Regions from separate parts of the Homo sapiens genome. Here region 2 is reported to be linked to region 1. The links are microRNA targets in miRTarBase. Many come from high-throughput screens and were not tested one by one. Region 1 holds a microRNA gene; the other region holds the end of a gene's coding sequence.
Evidence for each region. Region 1 holds the annotated microRNA hsa-miR-6500-5p (AGGAGCUAUCCACUCCAGGUGUCC, at 4,976-4,999, shown strand). A microRNA usually pairs through its seed, bases 2 to 8, with sites in the 3' UTR of a target mRNA and lowers its output. Matches are read on the target gene's strand: a 7mer-m8 pairs with bases 2 to 8, a 7mer-A1 pairs with bases 2 to 7 and ends in A, and an 8mer does both.

Region 2: miRTarBase lists HSD17B13 as a target of hsa-miR-6500-5p. Seed matches in the 3' UTR shown: 7mer-A1 at 6,185-6,191 and 7mer-A1 at 5,221-5,227.

Annotation. Positions count from the first base shown.
Region 1 is chr1:51,055,056-51,063,021 of GRCh38, forward strand. MIR6500 (microRNA 6500) reads left to right here and starts at 4,963; the gene lies at 4,963-5,048. MIR4421 (microRNA 4421) reads left to right here and starts at 4,782; the gene lies at 4,782-4,850.
Region 2 is chr4:87,299,020-87,306,985 of GRCh38, forward strand. HSD17B13 (hydroxysteroid 17-beta dehydrogenase 13) reads right to left here. Exons shown (of 7, transcript NM_178135.5): 7 at 4,775-6,289. The coding sequence ends at 6,199. It overlaps MIR5705 (microRNA 5705), which reads right to left and starts at 1,564; the gene lies at 1,476-1,564.

The DNA.
Region 1 (7,966 bases):
CTTTATTCCACTAATTTGGGGCTTAGTTTGCTCTTTTTCTAGTTCTTTGAGGTGTAATATCTTATTTGAGATCTTTCTCCTTCCTCCCTTCCTCCCTCCCTCTCTCCCCTCCCTCCCTCCCTCCCTTCTTTCTTTCTCTTCCTTCCTTCCTTCCTTTCTTTCTTTCTTTCTTTTCTTTCTTTCTTTCTTTTTCTTTCTATTTCTTTCTTTTTGAGACTGAGTCATGCTCTGTCACCCAGGCTGGAGTGCAGTGGCATGATCTTGGCTCACTGCAACCTCTACCTCCCAGGTTCAAGTGATCTCCTGCCTCAGCCTCCCACGTAGCTGGGATTACAGGCACGCACCACCATGCTTGGCTAATTTTTTGTATTTTTAGTAGAGATGAGATTTTGCCATGTTGGCCAGGCTGGTCTCAAACTCCTGACCTCAAGTGATCCTCCCACCTCGGCCTCCCAAAGTGCTGGGATTACAGGCATGAGCCACTGTGCCCGGCCTTCTTTCTTCTTTTAATGTAGGCATTTATCACTATATACTTCCCTTTTAGTACTGCTTTTGCTGCACCCTATAAATTTTGGTATGTTCTACTGTTTTTCTCTTTTTTTTCCCTTTCTTTCTCTCTTTCTTTTCTTTCTTTCTTTTTTTTTTTTTTTTTTTTTTTCTTTGCCCAGGCTAGCCTCAAACTCTTGGTCTCAAGCAATTTTCCCATCTTGGCCTCCCAAAGCAGTGGGATTATAGATGTGAGCCATCATTTCTAGCCTCAAGATACTCTTAAAATTACCCGTTGATTTCCTCTTTGACCCAAGAGTTGTTCAAGAGTTTGTTGTTGAGTTTCTATGTGTTTGTGATTTTTCCTATTTTCTTAAGATTATTGATTTCTACTTTCATCCCTTGTGGTCCAGAAAGATACTTGGAATAATTCCAATCTTCTTAAATTAGGTCACTTGTTTTGTAATCTAACATATGATCTATCCTGGAGAATGTTCCATGTATGCTTGAGAAAAGTGGATAATCTTCTGTTGTTGGGTGCAAATTTCTTTATATATCTGTTAGGATCATTTGTTTTATAGTGTTTTCTGTTTCTTTTTTGATATTCTGTACATTATTATAAGTGGAGTATTGAAATCCTCTACTATTATCATGTTACTGTCAAATTCTGCCTTCAGATCTGTCAACATTTGCTTTATATATTTAGATGCTCTTTGTTCAGTATATACATATTTATAATTGTTACATAATCATGTTGAAATGATCTTTTTATAATTATATCAAGACTTTGTCTCTGCAGGCAGCTTTAAACTAAAATCTGTTTTGTCTAACATAAGTATAGTTACCCTGCGTATCCTTGGTTACCATTTGCGTGAGAAATCTTTTCTCATCTCTTCACTTTTAGTCTATATGTGTCTTTAACTCTAAAATCAGTCTCTTATAAACAACATACCATTGGATCCTGTTCTTTCAAATTACACAGCCACTCTATGCCTTTTAATTGGTGAGTTTAATCCATTTACATTTAAAGTAATTAGTGATAGCTGAGGACTACTATTGCCATTCTGTTAACTGGTTTGTGTCTTTTGCAGTTATATTGCCCCTCTCTTCCTCTCTTATTATATTCGTTTGTTATTTGATGTTTTATAGTGATTGCTTTGATTCTCATCTCTTTATGTTTTCTGTATCTGTTACAGATTTTATTCTTTGTGGTTAACTTGAGGCTTATGAAAAATATCTTGTATTTCTAACCATCTATTTTTAAGTTTATAACTATTTCAATCACATCCAAAACCTTTATACTTTTGGCCAGGCATGGTGGCTCACACCTGTAATCCCAGTGCTTTGGGAGGCTGAGACAGGAGGATTGCTTGAAGTGAGGTGTTTGAGACCAGCCTGTGCAATGTAGTAAGACCTTGTCTCTAAAAAAAACCAAAACCAAAAACCGTTTTACATTTTTACTCCCCACCCCTACACTTTGTGTTCTTGTAGTCAGTTTGTTGCCTTTTATATTGTGTATCCTTTGACAAATTTTTATCTTTTAATTTTTATATTAGGGTTAAAAGTAAGTTAGGCCCCACCATTATAGTTTTATATTAACTATATTTGTCCATATATTTTCCTTTACTCATAATATTTATGCTTTTATATGTTTTCATTATACTATTTAGTGTGTTTTCATTTCAATTTGAAGAAATAACTCTTTTAAACATTTCTTTTACGGCTGGGCTAGTAGTGACAGACTCCCTTTGTTTTTGTTTGTCTAAGGAAGAATTCATCTCCCCTTCATTTTTAAAGGATAATCTTGCCAGATGTAGATTCACGGTAAGTAGTTTTTTTTTTCCAGTTCTTTCAATATATCATCCCATTCTCTTCGGCATGCAAGGTTTCTGATGAGAAAGCCACTGATAGTCTTATGGTGATTCCCTATATGTGATGCATTACTTTTCTCTTGCAGCTTTAAAATTCTTTCAGTGTCCTTTATTTTAGACAATTTGATTAAAATGTACCTTGGTATAGTCTTGAATTGATCCTCTTTGAAAACCTGTAAGCTTCATGAATCTGGATATCCATTTCCCTCTCAAAATTTGAGAAGTTTTCAGCCATTACTTCTTTATTTTATTTTATTATCATTATTATTATTATAATTTTTTGAGAAGTAGTCTTGCTCTGTCACCCAGGCTGGAGTACAGTGGCACAATCTCAGTTCATTGCAACGTCTGCCTCCCAAGTTCAAGTCATTCTCCTGCCTCAGCCTCCCGAGTAGCTGGAATTACAGGCACCTGCCACCACACCTGGCTAATTTTTGTAGTTTAAGTAGAGACAAGGTTTCACCATGTTGGCCAAGCTGGTCTTTAACTCCTGACCTCAGGTGATCCACCTGCCTCGACCTCCCAAAGTGCTGGGATTACAGGCATGAGCCACTGCACCTAACCCATTATTTCTTTAAAAAAGCTTTTTACCTCTTTCTCTTGCTTTTCTTCTTCTAGTACTCTCATTATGCACATATTGGTTTGCTTGATGGTGTCCCATAAGTCCTATAAATTTTCTTCACTCTTTTTCATTCTTTTTTCTCCTCTGACTGGATAATTTCAAATAACCTGTCTTCAAGGGCACAAATTCTTTCTTCTGCTCAATAAAGTCTATTTTTGAAGTTCTCTATTGTGTTTTTAATATCAGTCATTAGGTTTTTTGGTTCCAGAATTTCTTTCTTTTTCTTTTTTTTTTTTTTTTCTTTTTTTGAGTTGGAGTCTCATTCTGTCACCCAGGCTGGAGTGCAGTGGCATGACCTCAGCTCACTGCAACCTCTGCCTCCCAGGTTCAAGTGATTCTCCTGTCTCAGTCTCCTGAGTAGCTGGGATTACAGGTGCACACCACCATGCCCAGCTAATTTTTTGTATTTTAGTAGATATGGGGTTTCACTGTGTTGCCCAGGCTGGTCTCAAACTCCTGAGCTCAGGCAATCCGCCTACCTTGGCCTCCCAAAGTGCTAGGATTACAGGTGTGAGCCACCACTCCCAGCCTGGTTCTTTTTTATAAGTTCTACCTTCCTGTTGAACTTCTTGTATTGTTCATGTATTCTTTCTCTGTTTTCAGATGAAATCAGACATGTTCGAGGTGGTATGGCCGTAGACTCTTTTTCTGTTTTCACTGAGTTGTCCAACTGTGTTCTCCTATTGCATGCTGAACTTCTTTAAAAACAATTATTTCTAATTGTTTGGAAGGCAATTTATAGATATCCATTTCTTTGGGGTTGGTTATTGGAAAATTATTGTGTTCCTTTGGTGGTGTCCTGTTTCTTTGATTTCGTGTGTGCGTATTTCTTGTAGCCTTGGGCTGTTTCTTTGCATATTTCATGGAGGAGTAACTTCTAGAGCATATGAACTGGCTTCATGGAGGAAGACTGTCACCTACAGGTTGGTGCAAGTGATGGCAGCAGTGGCCTGTCTGGAGTAGCCACTGTGAAGATGCCGGCTTCAGCAGGGGAAGCACAACTGGGGCTGCACACTCTGCTGAGCCCACGGGTGCCGGGAACAGGTGGGAGCCCCACCCCCTAACAAGTCAGTGGAGCAGGAGCCACATGCTCCCAGGCACAGCTGCAGCTTCTCAGCTGTAGCCACAGACCCAGGCATCCCTGAGGTCTCAGGGGCCCCGGAAGCCCTTTGTTCCCGTAGGCTTGAAAGTGCCTGCTCCCACTGCCTGGCCTCTCCCTGCTCCTGGCCCCCACTCTGGGGCAGAGCAAAGTTGTGGCAGAGCCCAGGCACTGTTGTGACCCAGCTGGGTACCCAAGCACTCAGGGCAGTGCTGACATGCCAGCCCCCTGCTGTCTCAGGCCATCCAGACTTTGGGAACTGAAGAGCACAAGAGGGAGACCAAGGGGTTGCTCAGGGTGGCTCAGTGTGGGCCTGTAGGCAAACCTCAGCATGAACAGCCTGGGCGGCATGGACAACATGTTGATGGTGACAGGAGGCAGACAGGCTCCTGGGCAGAAAGGGGCAGGTTCCCAGTGAAACGCAACCTTCAAGCCATGGATGGCATGAAGCCTGGGGGCTGGGCTGTCAGCTCCAGGTGGAGTCTGCGGCCTGGAGTGAGAACTTATGGTGCTTTTTCCAGGCCCGCCCATGGCCACCCATGGGCCAATCAGAACACACTTCTTCCTTTCTGAGCCCATAAAAACTATGTTACCTAGCTAGACTCATACAGATGTCAGGACTACCAGCTGCAGGAAGGAGCTACCCACTTCAGGTCTCCTCTACTTGTCAGTATGACCTGCCTGTGGAAAAGAGCTACTCACTCTGGGTCTCCTTTCTGCTGAGAGTTGAACACTTGTTGGGACAACCTGTCTGTGGAAAGGAGCTACCTACTCTGGGTTTCCTCTCCCCTGAGAGCTGGACACTCATCTGGACAACCTGCCTGCAGCTAGGAGCTACCTTCTCTGGGTCTCTTCTCTGCTGAGGGCTGCACTCGTCAGGACTACCTGCCTGCAGAAAGGAGCTATCCACTCCAGGTGTCCTTTCTTCTGAGAGCTGGACACTTGTTGGGATGACCTGCCTGCAGGTAGGAGCTGCCCACTCTGGTCTCCTCTCTGCTGAGGGATGCACTCGTCAGGACTAACTGCCTATGGAAAGGAGCTACCCACTCCAGGTCTCCTCTCCCCAGAGAGCTGGACACTTGTCAGGATGACCTGCCTGTGAAATGGAGCTACCCAATCTGGGGCTCCTCTCTACTGAGGGCTGAACTAGTTGGGATGACCTGCCTGTGGAAAGGAGCTACCAACTCCAGGTCTCCCAAGAGCTGTTCTGTCACTCTTTTGCTCAAGAAAGTTCCTTTCTGCCTTGCTCACCCTCCAGTTTTCTGCATACCTCATTCTTCCTGGACACAGGACAAAAATTCAGGACCTGTTGAATGGTGGGACTGAAAGTGCTATAACACAAACAGAGCTAAAACACCTGCCTCCACCCCACTCGTCACACTGCAGGCAATGAGAAGGAGAGAAGAGCTGCAGCCCTTCAGGGAGCTCAGATGCACAGGCTCCCCCAGCCAGGGCTGTGACACCCTCTTTGGGGCTCTGTGGTTTCTAGTGTCTTGGAGCTTCCAAGTGCCACCATGTTCCCCTTGTCCAGATGTGAGTGCCCAGAGCAGAAGCCACTTATAGTGCATCTGATCCAGCCACAGGCTTGAACAGAGCCAGCACCTGTGGTGGCACCTGGAACTGCCCACCCCACCACAGCAGCCAATGCTTGGCTGTGTGCAGCAGCCAGACCCCATGCTTGCTTACTTGTGCACCCCTCTCCTCTCCATGCCTGGATCATTCTTTGAAGGTGTGGGAGCCAGGCCAGTAGCATGAGCTGAGTGCAGCCTGCCAGGCCGAGTGGGTGGAACAAGCCCAGCAGGCTTGAGCAAAACTCTGGCAAAGGCACCACTGGCCACAGAGGTTTCCAACTGGAAAAGTGACACCTGGAGGATGCCATGACACAAGGATTCTGACTGATGGGTATGCAGCCCTTGGTACAACACTGAATATAAATGGTAAGAGTGAACGTCCTTGTCTTATTCCTGATCTTAGGTGGTACTATGGTTTGAATATGATTTGTTTGGCCCTGCCAAGTCTCATGTTGAAATCTGATCCCCAGTGTTAAAGATGGGGCCTGGTAGGAGTGTTTGGGTTGTGGGGGTGGATCCTTCATGAATAGCTCTGTACCATTCTCACGAGAGTGAGTTCTTACTTTTAGTTCCCACAAGAACTGGTTGTTGAAAAAAGCCTGGTACCTCCTCTAGTCTCTCTCTTGCTTCCTCTCTCACCATATGATATGCATATACCAGCTCCTCTTCACTTTCTGCCATAAGTGGAATCAGCCTGGAGCCTTCACTAGAAGCAGATGCCAATGCCATGATTCTTGTGCAGCCTGCAGAACCGTGAGACAAATGAACCTCTTTTCTTCATGAATTACCCAGCCTCAGGTATGCCTTTATATTAATAGTAACACAGACTAAGATGGGATAATTTTTTCAAGCCTTTCACCACAAAGTGACATTAGCAGTGTGTTTTCATAGATGCCCTTTATCAGGCTGAGGAAGTTTCCTTCTATTCCAGGTTTCTTGTTTGTTTTTTTAATCATTAAAGTGTGTTGAATTTTCTCAAGTGCTTTTTCATATCTATGACATGACTGTTTGGCTTTTGTCCATTATTCTATTAATATGATATATGATAATGTATGCTGAGCCTGTATTCATGGAATAAATTCCACTTTGTCATGGTCCATAAATATTTTTATATGGAGCTGGAATCATTCTGATAGTCTATATTCATAACAATAGTTTATATTCATAAAGTTACTGGAAAGAATTTGGCTGTTAATCTTATCAAGAATACCTCAGAGATGATGAGCTGCTTCTGTCTTTCTGCTTTCAATATACTCTCTGTGCCCTTGGTTTTCCAGTTGGTTATGTTGTGTATAGGTGTGCATCTCTTTGCATTTATACTACAGTATAACCTTGAACAACATGAGGGGTTGGGGTGCCGACCCCACTAGTCAAACATCCACATATACATACCTGTGAGAAGAGGGTAGAAAAAAAATCCACATACAACTTTTGACTTCCCAAAAACTTAACTACCAATAGTCTACTATTGGCCAGAATGTTACTGACAACATAAACAGCTGATTAACACTTTTTTTAATGTTATAAGTATCATATACTGTATTTTTACCATTAAGCCAGCCAGAGAAAAGAAAATAATAAGGAAAATATATTTACTATTCATTAAGTGGGTAATCAGAAAGGAATTCATCCCCTCTGTTTTCACATTGAGTAGGCTAAAGAGGAGAAGGAAAAAGAGGGGTTGGTCTTGCCATCTCAGGGATGGCAGAGGTGAGTAAAAGTTCCATATAAGTGGACCTGAACAGCTCAAACCCATGTTGTTCAAGGGTCAACTATACTTGGAGTCTGTTGAGTTTCTTTGATGTATAGATTAATGTTTTTCATCAAACGCTGGCAGTTTTTGGCCATTATTTTGTCAAGCATATTTTTTGCTCCTTTTTCTCTCTTCCGAGACTACCATTATGCATAGATTGGCATGCTTGATGGTATCCTATAGATCTGCAAGGTTCTCTTCATCTTTGTTAATCTTTTTTTCTTTCTCTTTCTCAGACCAGATTTTCTCAATTGGTTTATCTTCAGGTTCACTGATTCTTTTTCAAATATGCTCTTGAAACCCTCTAGTGAATTTTTTTGTTTCAGTACTTTTTGACTCTAGAATTTCTATTTGGTTGTTTTATTTAAAAAGAAATTATTTAAATGTCTATCTCTTTATTGATATTCTCTCTTAAGTTTTATATCATTTTCATACTTTCCTTTGGTTCTTTATACATAGTTTCCTTTAGTTCTTCAAACATTTAATATCGCTGATTTAACAACTTGGCCTTGTAAGTTTAGCATCAAGGCTTTCTGAGGGACAGTTTCTATTAACTGCTTTTTT
Region 2 (7,966 bases), not on the chromosome of region 1:
ATAACAAGGTACACTGGAACTGCAATATTGTTTGAAATATTTAAATCACATCATTCCAAATTGAATTCAACATCAAGTGGTCTTTTTTTTTTTCCTGCTACATAGGTAATACAGGATAGTTTTGATGACTGAAAAATAGGCTATGTTTCCAGACTAGATTAGAATGTGGGGAGAAGCTTAGAAAGAGAAGGCTGAAAAGAGAAAGAGAACAATGGAAGAGAAGTAGAGAACTAAATGCATCAAATTAATTGAACGAAGTCTGAACTAATTAGTAAAGAGCCATCAGAAGGAAAGAGGTGTTGAGAAACAGAAAGTCAAAAAATCCAGGGCTGGGTGCAGTGACTCACGCCCATAATCTCAGCACTTTGGGAGGCCGAGGCGGGCTGATCACTGGAGGCCAGGAGTTCGAGACCAGTCTGGCCAACATAGTGAAACCCTGTCTCTACTAAAAGTACAAAAATTAGCTGGATGTAGTGGTGCATGCCTATAAACCCAGGTACTCAGGAGGCTGAGGCTGGAGAATCCCTTGAACCCGGGAAATGGAGGCTGCAGTGAGCCAAGATCACACCACTGCACTCCAGCCTGGGTGACAAAGTGAGACTCTGTCTCAAAAAGAAAAAAAAAAAAGTGAAAAATCCTAGTTATTGGAATTAGGTATGGGAACAGGCAATTTGGTTTTCAGTGTTGTTTGGGAATATTTAAGTCTTAATTTATACAAGTTAGCCTCACATTTAAAAGTAAGAAGATCTCTATTGAGATAATGGATCATTACTGGAGTGCAATTGGTAAATGACTTCACTTTTCATAAGTGTTTTGATGTGAATTTATGAATATTCTCTAGCTGCTCACTGGGTTTGTGAAGTTAGTTTGAATGAGACATGATTGCACCCTAGGCAAGTCAGAATGTACTTGCTTTGATTTCACTGTGATTACTTTTACTATAAAAGATTCCCATTAAATACAAGTAAGTTCCCACTTAACTTTCCTGTAATTCCACCCTTGCTGCAAGCAGCTGACAGGCAAATTTGATCAGATGTAATACATCCAATCAGATAAAGAAGGGGTTTCAGCAAAACACTTGGCAGATTTGAAGAGCTGAATAGAAAAGGTCATGAGCTGTCTGAAAACTTTTAGACACAAGAGGAAGCAAATAGTAGAAAGCGTGAGAGCACTCTTAGGACAGGGATTGGCATTTCCCCCTTACGGTTTCTCACGTAATTTGTGAAGACATAAACACAAGGGTAACTGTTAAATTCGTTGTAATTATCACATGTACAGAACAGCCCAGTTCACATAATGCTGCACTAAATTCAAAGTTAGTGTTATAAAAAAAGATGCCTCTAAAACATATGAATTACCTAGGAGTTTTTAAAAAATGCAGATTCTGATTTTGTAAGTTTGAGATGGGTTGCAACAGTTTGTATTTCCAACATGCCTCTCATGCGGCAGCCATGCTGCAAGGGCATGTTTAAACTTCCCCATTTACACAGGCCATGAGCCCCGAAACACCCATCAGCAATCCTGGGATGGGTGTTTCGGGGCTCATGGCCTGTGTAAATGGGGAACTTTAATGTTAGATGTTCATTCCATCTTTGGAAACATTATTATATAGATCATATAAGATTTAGATTAGAAACTAACCAAGCATTTTCTCTTCAACCATACATTTACTCTGCTACTCCTTTAAGCTTTGCATACAGTTGAAGATTGGCTGTACCTATACCACCCTCAGATCTGAGCAAGTGAGGGCCTTACCCCAGTCCTGTGCCTCATAGAGCCTTATTCTTTGGAGTGCCCTCTATGAAATTTTCCAAGTCCTCTTCGGATGCCTGCTCTGTTTTTTCTCTCTGGGGTACTCTCCCTTTCTCTCCCTGTGTATAAGGTTGACCAGATATCCTGGGGAGCTCTGCAACTTGTAACTATAGGATCATCCTGGGGTCTTGTTTCCAGGCTTTCGTTTCAGGAGGGTGGCCTGGAGAGCAGACTGCTACTTCTGGTTGGCAAAGAATTTCTTTTGCAGGATTACATGAAATTTGGCTGCCAGAATGATGCTGACATGCTGATTTTGGATAATTCTCACTCACATTGGGCATAGATCTAATTTAGGGTTGTAAGCTATCTAAGGTCCACTGCCCAAGCCGCATGTGTTGACCCATGCATCCACTCGCAGTTTGTTCTGAGTATGATGCCACTTCTGCTATATAACATCCAAGGGCTGCAGGGTGACATCAGATGTCCTTACCCCGCTTGCCAATGGCATTCAGGAAAATCATCCTATCCCCTCTGCAGGTTCTATGCCATGGGTCAGGCAGTCCTTTTGGCTGGGGGTTGGGGGGTGGCTGCACTTATCTCTTCTGAGGGCTTTTAAGACTATTGCTTCTTCACAACAGTGGGCCTTTCTGACTGATGTGATGATGCTGTGTTCTCTTCTCCCTGGTCAATGTTAAGCTCTCCTAGAGGAGGGACAGACATTCCTTGTGCAAATGGGGCTGTTCATTTTGTTCTGTCCACAATCCCCTCTCTGCTGCTGGTGGTGTGTGGGAGGTAGGGTACGGTCAGGAGTGGCAGAGATCAATTCTAGAAATGTAATGATGATGGCCTAAAAAGTTCAAGACAAGACACAGTTGAAAGATGTGTTGTTCTATGTGATGCTATAACATTCTAAATGATAAATTTAAAATGAGCAATAAACAACGAATCATTCATGTTTTCTCGTATATATACCCTGGGTAAGACTTGAATTTGTGATTATCATCAAACATTGTACCAGTAACAATTGTACTATATTGAACTGTGTTGTACCAGTAACAATCTTTGAGTGATTGTCTCTGAGTGATACCCAGTATTCATGGGTAGCACAATGGATGATGCAATGTCAAAAGGCATAATGTAGCTAAGATTAAATAAATGGTAGCAGGGTATTGGAAAGGGGTGAAGATTCATATTATTTTATTACAAACATATTACAAAGAGCCATGGCATTATGAATAATAACAGCATTGCTACCCTTTCTTGTGGTAAAAGATATGAAATTAGCTAGGAATGGCTCATTTGATAAAAAAGAAATGATTCCTGGACCAAAGAGATAGTACCAGGATGCCGAGAAGAATCTTTACATGTACTGCTCGGACAATAAATACACAAATCTTCCTATTATTCTAAATCTTTATCAAAAAATCACTATACTGCATGCACATGGACCTATAAATTTTATAAAGCATTTTTAATAAAAGTGTTTATATAGATAGAAGCCCTGCAAAAAAATATTTGTCTGGTGATCTGCACATCCTAGCAGTAGCCCTTGGAACTGGGATTTTGGTGAAAGAGAGGGCTCTTAGAGAGAATTATAGATGAAGATTGTCATAGGAAAACATTTGGAAGCTCAGGTGGAGCTTTTTATTTTTTTGAGACGGAGTCTCACTCTGTTGCCCAGGCTGGAGTGCGGTGGCGTGATCTTAGCTCACTGCAACCTCCGCCTCCCAGGTTCAAGTGATTCTCCTGCCTCAGCCTCCTGAGTAGCTGGGATTACAGGCATGTACCACCATGCCCAGCTAAATTTTGTATATTTAGTAGAGACAGGGTTTCGCCTTGTTGGCCAGGCTGGTCTCGAACCCCTGACCTCAGGTGATCTGCCCCCCTTGGCCTCCCAAAGTGCTAGGATTACAAGCATGAGTCACCACGCCTGGCTGCAGGTGGAACTTTTAAGGAGGAGGACTACACTCAAAATAAGCAAGAAAAATGGACAAAGAGAGATGAATATTTTGCTCGCACATTTCTCTGAGCTTCATTCATAAAAGATTAAAACCAAAATGGAATTAAAATAAGAAGTTTTCTGCTCTGAACTTAACACTGGAATTTAAGAGGTTTCTATTTTTGTCAATATGTATATCATAAAATATTTTTTAGTTGCCTGTGTATGGTAATAGTTCGTCCGCAAAATGTTCTTTCTCAGCGTGCTCTTCCCTGACTCTACTACTTTAAATGCTCTCTCTCATATTTGCAGTCCCTTTATTGTTTGTCCCACCTACTAGAATGTGAGCTCTGTTAAGACAAGGAGTTTGCCTTATTCATATATGTTTCCCTGGGCCTAGAACTTTGAGGGCACTCAGTATTTGTTAAATTAATATTTAAATAGATGAACTAAGAAATACTGGAAACATCCTAAGTGCCTATCAAAAGGGAATGGTTAGAGTACCATTTTAGTACTGTGTACTCATGAAAAAAAGTTGAATTCTCTATACTGAAACAAACAGCTGTTTGTGATAAGTTGGTAAGCTAAAAGAGCAAGTTACAGAACATAATGTATGGTATGAAACTACTGATACGACCCATGCAATAAGAATATAATGTATTTGTCATGAACATGCATCAGTAAAAGACTGGAAGATTGTGCATTGACAGTGTGACCTCTGGGAAATGGGATTGCTGGGGGTAAGCTTCTATTTTTTACTTTCCATGTTTCTCTTTTGAATTTTTGTAACCATACTTTAAAAATAATACATTTTACTCATAAATTTCTTGATTATAAGGCAAGAAATTAAAAGAATGTTATGAAAAAAATTATTGCCGGTGACTAAGAAAAAAAATTAGAAACAATAGCACTGTGCTTAATCTCACACATAGAAAGGGGTCAGTAAGTTCCAGTTGATAAACCAGCACTCCTGCTGTCAAAGAAACCAGAGTTGAGAAAACCCCTGGATTCATTTAATAACTGCCAGATGTAGCTGTTACCATCCACATCCTTGGTTCTTGAAGGACACTCATAGAGACAGAGTTTAGAAGTCAAACGTTTTATTTTATAACTACAAGAGGTTATTTTTTTAAAGCACAATGACATATTTATTTTTAGTGAATTGTTTTTGTGACTTTTAAAAAAATCATTTGTTTTTAATAAAAACAAGAGGATAGTCCATGCAAAAGCATTCTATAATACATGTGAAAAACACACAAAACAAGATTAGTCTTGATGTAGTGGGAGTCGGATTATTTTTTCTATTAAAAAAAAAAAGGCTGGGCACGGTGGCTCACACCCGTAATCCCAGCACTTTGGGAGGCCGAGGCAGGTGGATCACGAGGTCAGGAGATCGAGACCATCTTGGCTAACATGGTGAAACCCCGTCTCTACAAAAAATACAAAAAATTAGCCGGGTGTGGTGGCGGGCGCCTGTAGTCCCAGCTACTCAGGAGGCTGAGGCAGGAGAATGGCGTGAACCCGGGAGGTGGAGCTTGCAGTGAGCTGAGATCATACCACTGCACTCCAGCCTGGGCGAAAGAGTGAGACTCCATCTCAAAAAAACAAAAAACAAAACAAAACAAAACAAAAACCAAAAAACCTTTCTTTCTTCCTTTTCTTCTCTTGGGTCCATTGTTTCTTATGTAATAGCCAGTACAGTTCCTTTTCCTGTGTTAGCTTTAATTTTTGAGCCTAAAATTGTCTAAACATCTCTGGGACCAAGGATATATGAAAGCATAAATTACAAAGAAAAAGGTTATCATGGGGCTAGAACTTAAAATTCTGAGATTTAAAATAGAGTCGGTCACCTTTCATAATGTATCTTATAAGACTATAAAAAGGGAGGAAATATAGAGGGTCCACTTTTGGTGGACTTCAGAGTTATACAGAAGACAGAATCAAGTAATAAAGTCCAGAATAGAGTTGCACCGTTTTGGGCTAATGAAAAAGGAAGAGGCTAGGGAAATCTTTCAAATGCTGAATCTTAAAATATGTCCAGGTTGAGATAAAGCTGCCTGCTGAAACTTGATCTCTTAGCTGTGCACTCATTCTGTGTTCTTGTTGATATTCTGTGGCATGGCTACAGATTGGAATGCTACTTGAACAGTCTTAAACCTTCCCTGTGTAAATAAGTTCTCTTTGTATTTACTTTTAGGGAGGTAGCTTTTGTCCACCTTTAAATGGAAAAATAAAATATCTTAAAGAAAACCTTTTAAGTATGTTTATGTAAGCACAGAAGTTTTTAAGAGGCATGAAAGGAAAAACAGACCTATGAAAAACTACGTAAATATTCTTGAGAAACAGGAAGACAGGTAATTAATCTTGTTCGTTTGACTGCTGCTAGTGCCAAACCAATGTTTTTAATATTATCAGGACTGAAAAAATGTGAAATAAAGCTTTGCAGCATTGATTCGAAACTATTCATATCATTATCATGCATACATCTCTGGCTGGAGCTTATTTATTCATTTCATTTTGATTTTGTGGCCAACCACTGCTTCAAATTGAATATTCTGCATACGATTTAAAATCGCTGAGGCGCGTTCAGGAAGAAACCTGTACAAAAAAGAAAAAAAAATTGAAAAATTTTCCATTTAAAATCTTTGACAACAGAGTTCTGTTTTTGGTCATTTAGAATACGCTGAGAGTTATCTGGTTTGCGTTTAACTTTCCTCCGTTCTTTTCTTCTCTTGCAACCACCTCTCTTTTACGTGTGCATCTTTCTTTTTCTTTTTTTTTTTTGACATAACTTCATAGTGGACTTCATTAGGAAAAGTGTAAAAACATTCAAATTCATAAAATTGAAATGAGACAGTAAAATTATGCCTTGTGGCTATAGTAATTGCTATAGTAATCACAAGTAAGGTAAAGTCTAAATTATTGCCTGAACACAGAGGTTGCAGTGAGCCGAGATCACGCCATTGCACTCCAGCCTGGGCGACAAGAATGAAACTCCATCTCAATAAATAAATAAATAAATTATTGCCTAAACAAACACTATTTTGTCAGGCTTCTGCTGCAAGCCCAAGGCAGAAAACATTGCAGTTATTAGAAGTCAGCCCAATTATGAATCTGCATTTGAAGCTGGAAGAAAGGGGAAAAAGTGTGTTCTGATTACAGCATCAAGACATTCTAGCCTGCAAAACAGTAACTTTATTAACGTCTTGCAGCGGAGTACGTTAATAATCGTAACCATGCATTAAAACTCTCATTTCATGTCAAAAAGAGAGTAATCAGTTTTCCTCATGATTTATGTTTTACTGAATTTCATACAGTTCGTCCCTCTGAAAATGTTTTTAGGAACATTCCCTCTCCAAGGAGTGCATCTTAAGATACCCAGGTTGCTTACGACAGGTCATCTTTGGTCATTTTAAATCAATCTGTCTGAACCTATGTGTGCACCTTTGTAATATTCATAGTTCAAATTGGATGCAAATATAAATAAAGCACTGATACATACCACTCTTCTCACTCTCTTATCTGATATGAGTAAAGATCTAAAACTGAAGGTCTGAGCTCATTGCTGAAACTGCTGATTAATCTTGATGCTAAAAGCTCACCAAGAGACACCACCAGAATCCATTCTATGCAAGCCTTCACCTCTCCTTTACTATTTACTGAATATCTATTATGCACTCTATAATAAGGTAAACTAAAGTACTTGAAAAATAGCTATTGTCTTTGATATTGTTTAGCTGATAGGCTAAAATGGTCATCTTAAAACAATTATTGAAAAATATCAGCCATCTAGAATTAAGGGCTATAACTGGAAGGAGGATTCACATGGGCTGGGATAGTGGAGGAAAGCTTCAAAAGGACAACTGATGTCCAGGAATGCATAAGAGATGAGTAGGCAACTGAAAGGAAGAGAGTGGCTGGCCCGGTGGCTCACGCCTGTAATCCCAGCACTTTGAGAGGCACAGGTGGTCAGATCATGAGGTCAGGAGTTCGAGACCAGCTTGACCAACATGGTGAAACCCTGTCTCTACTAAAAATACAAAAAAACTAGCCAGGTGTGGTGGCACATGCCTGTAATCCCAGCTACTCAGGAGGCTGAGGCAGGAGAATTGCTTGAACTCAGGAGGTGGAGGTTACAGTGAGCTGAGATCAAGCCACTGCACTCCAGCCTGGGCAACAGAGTGAGACCCAATCTAAAAAAAAAAAAAAAAAAAAAAAAAAAAAGGAAGACAGTATGTGAATGTAAAGAGGCAGAAATAATAACATTCTGCAGAG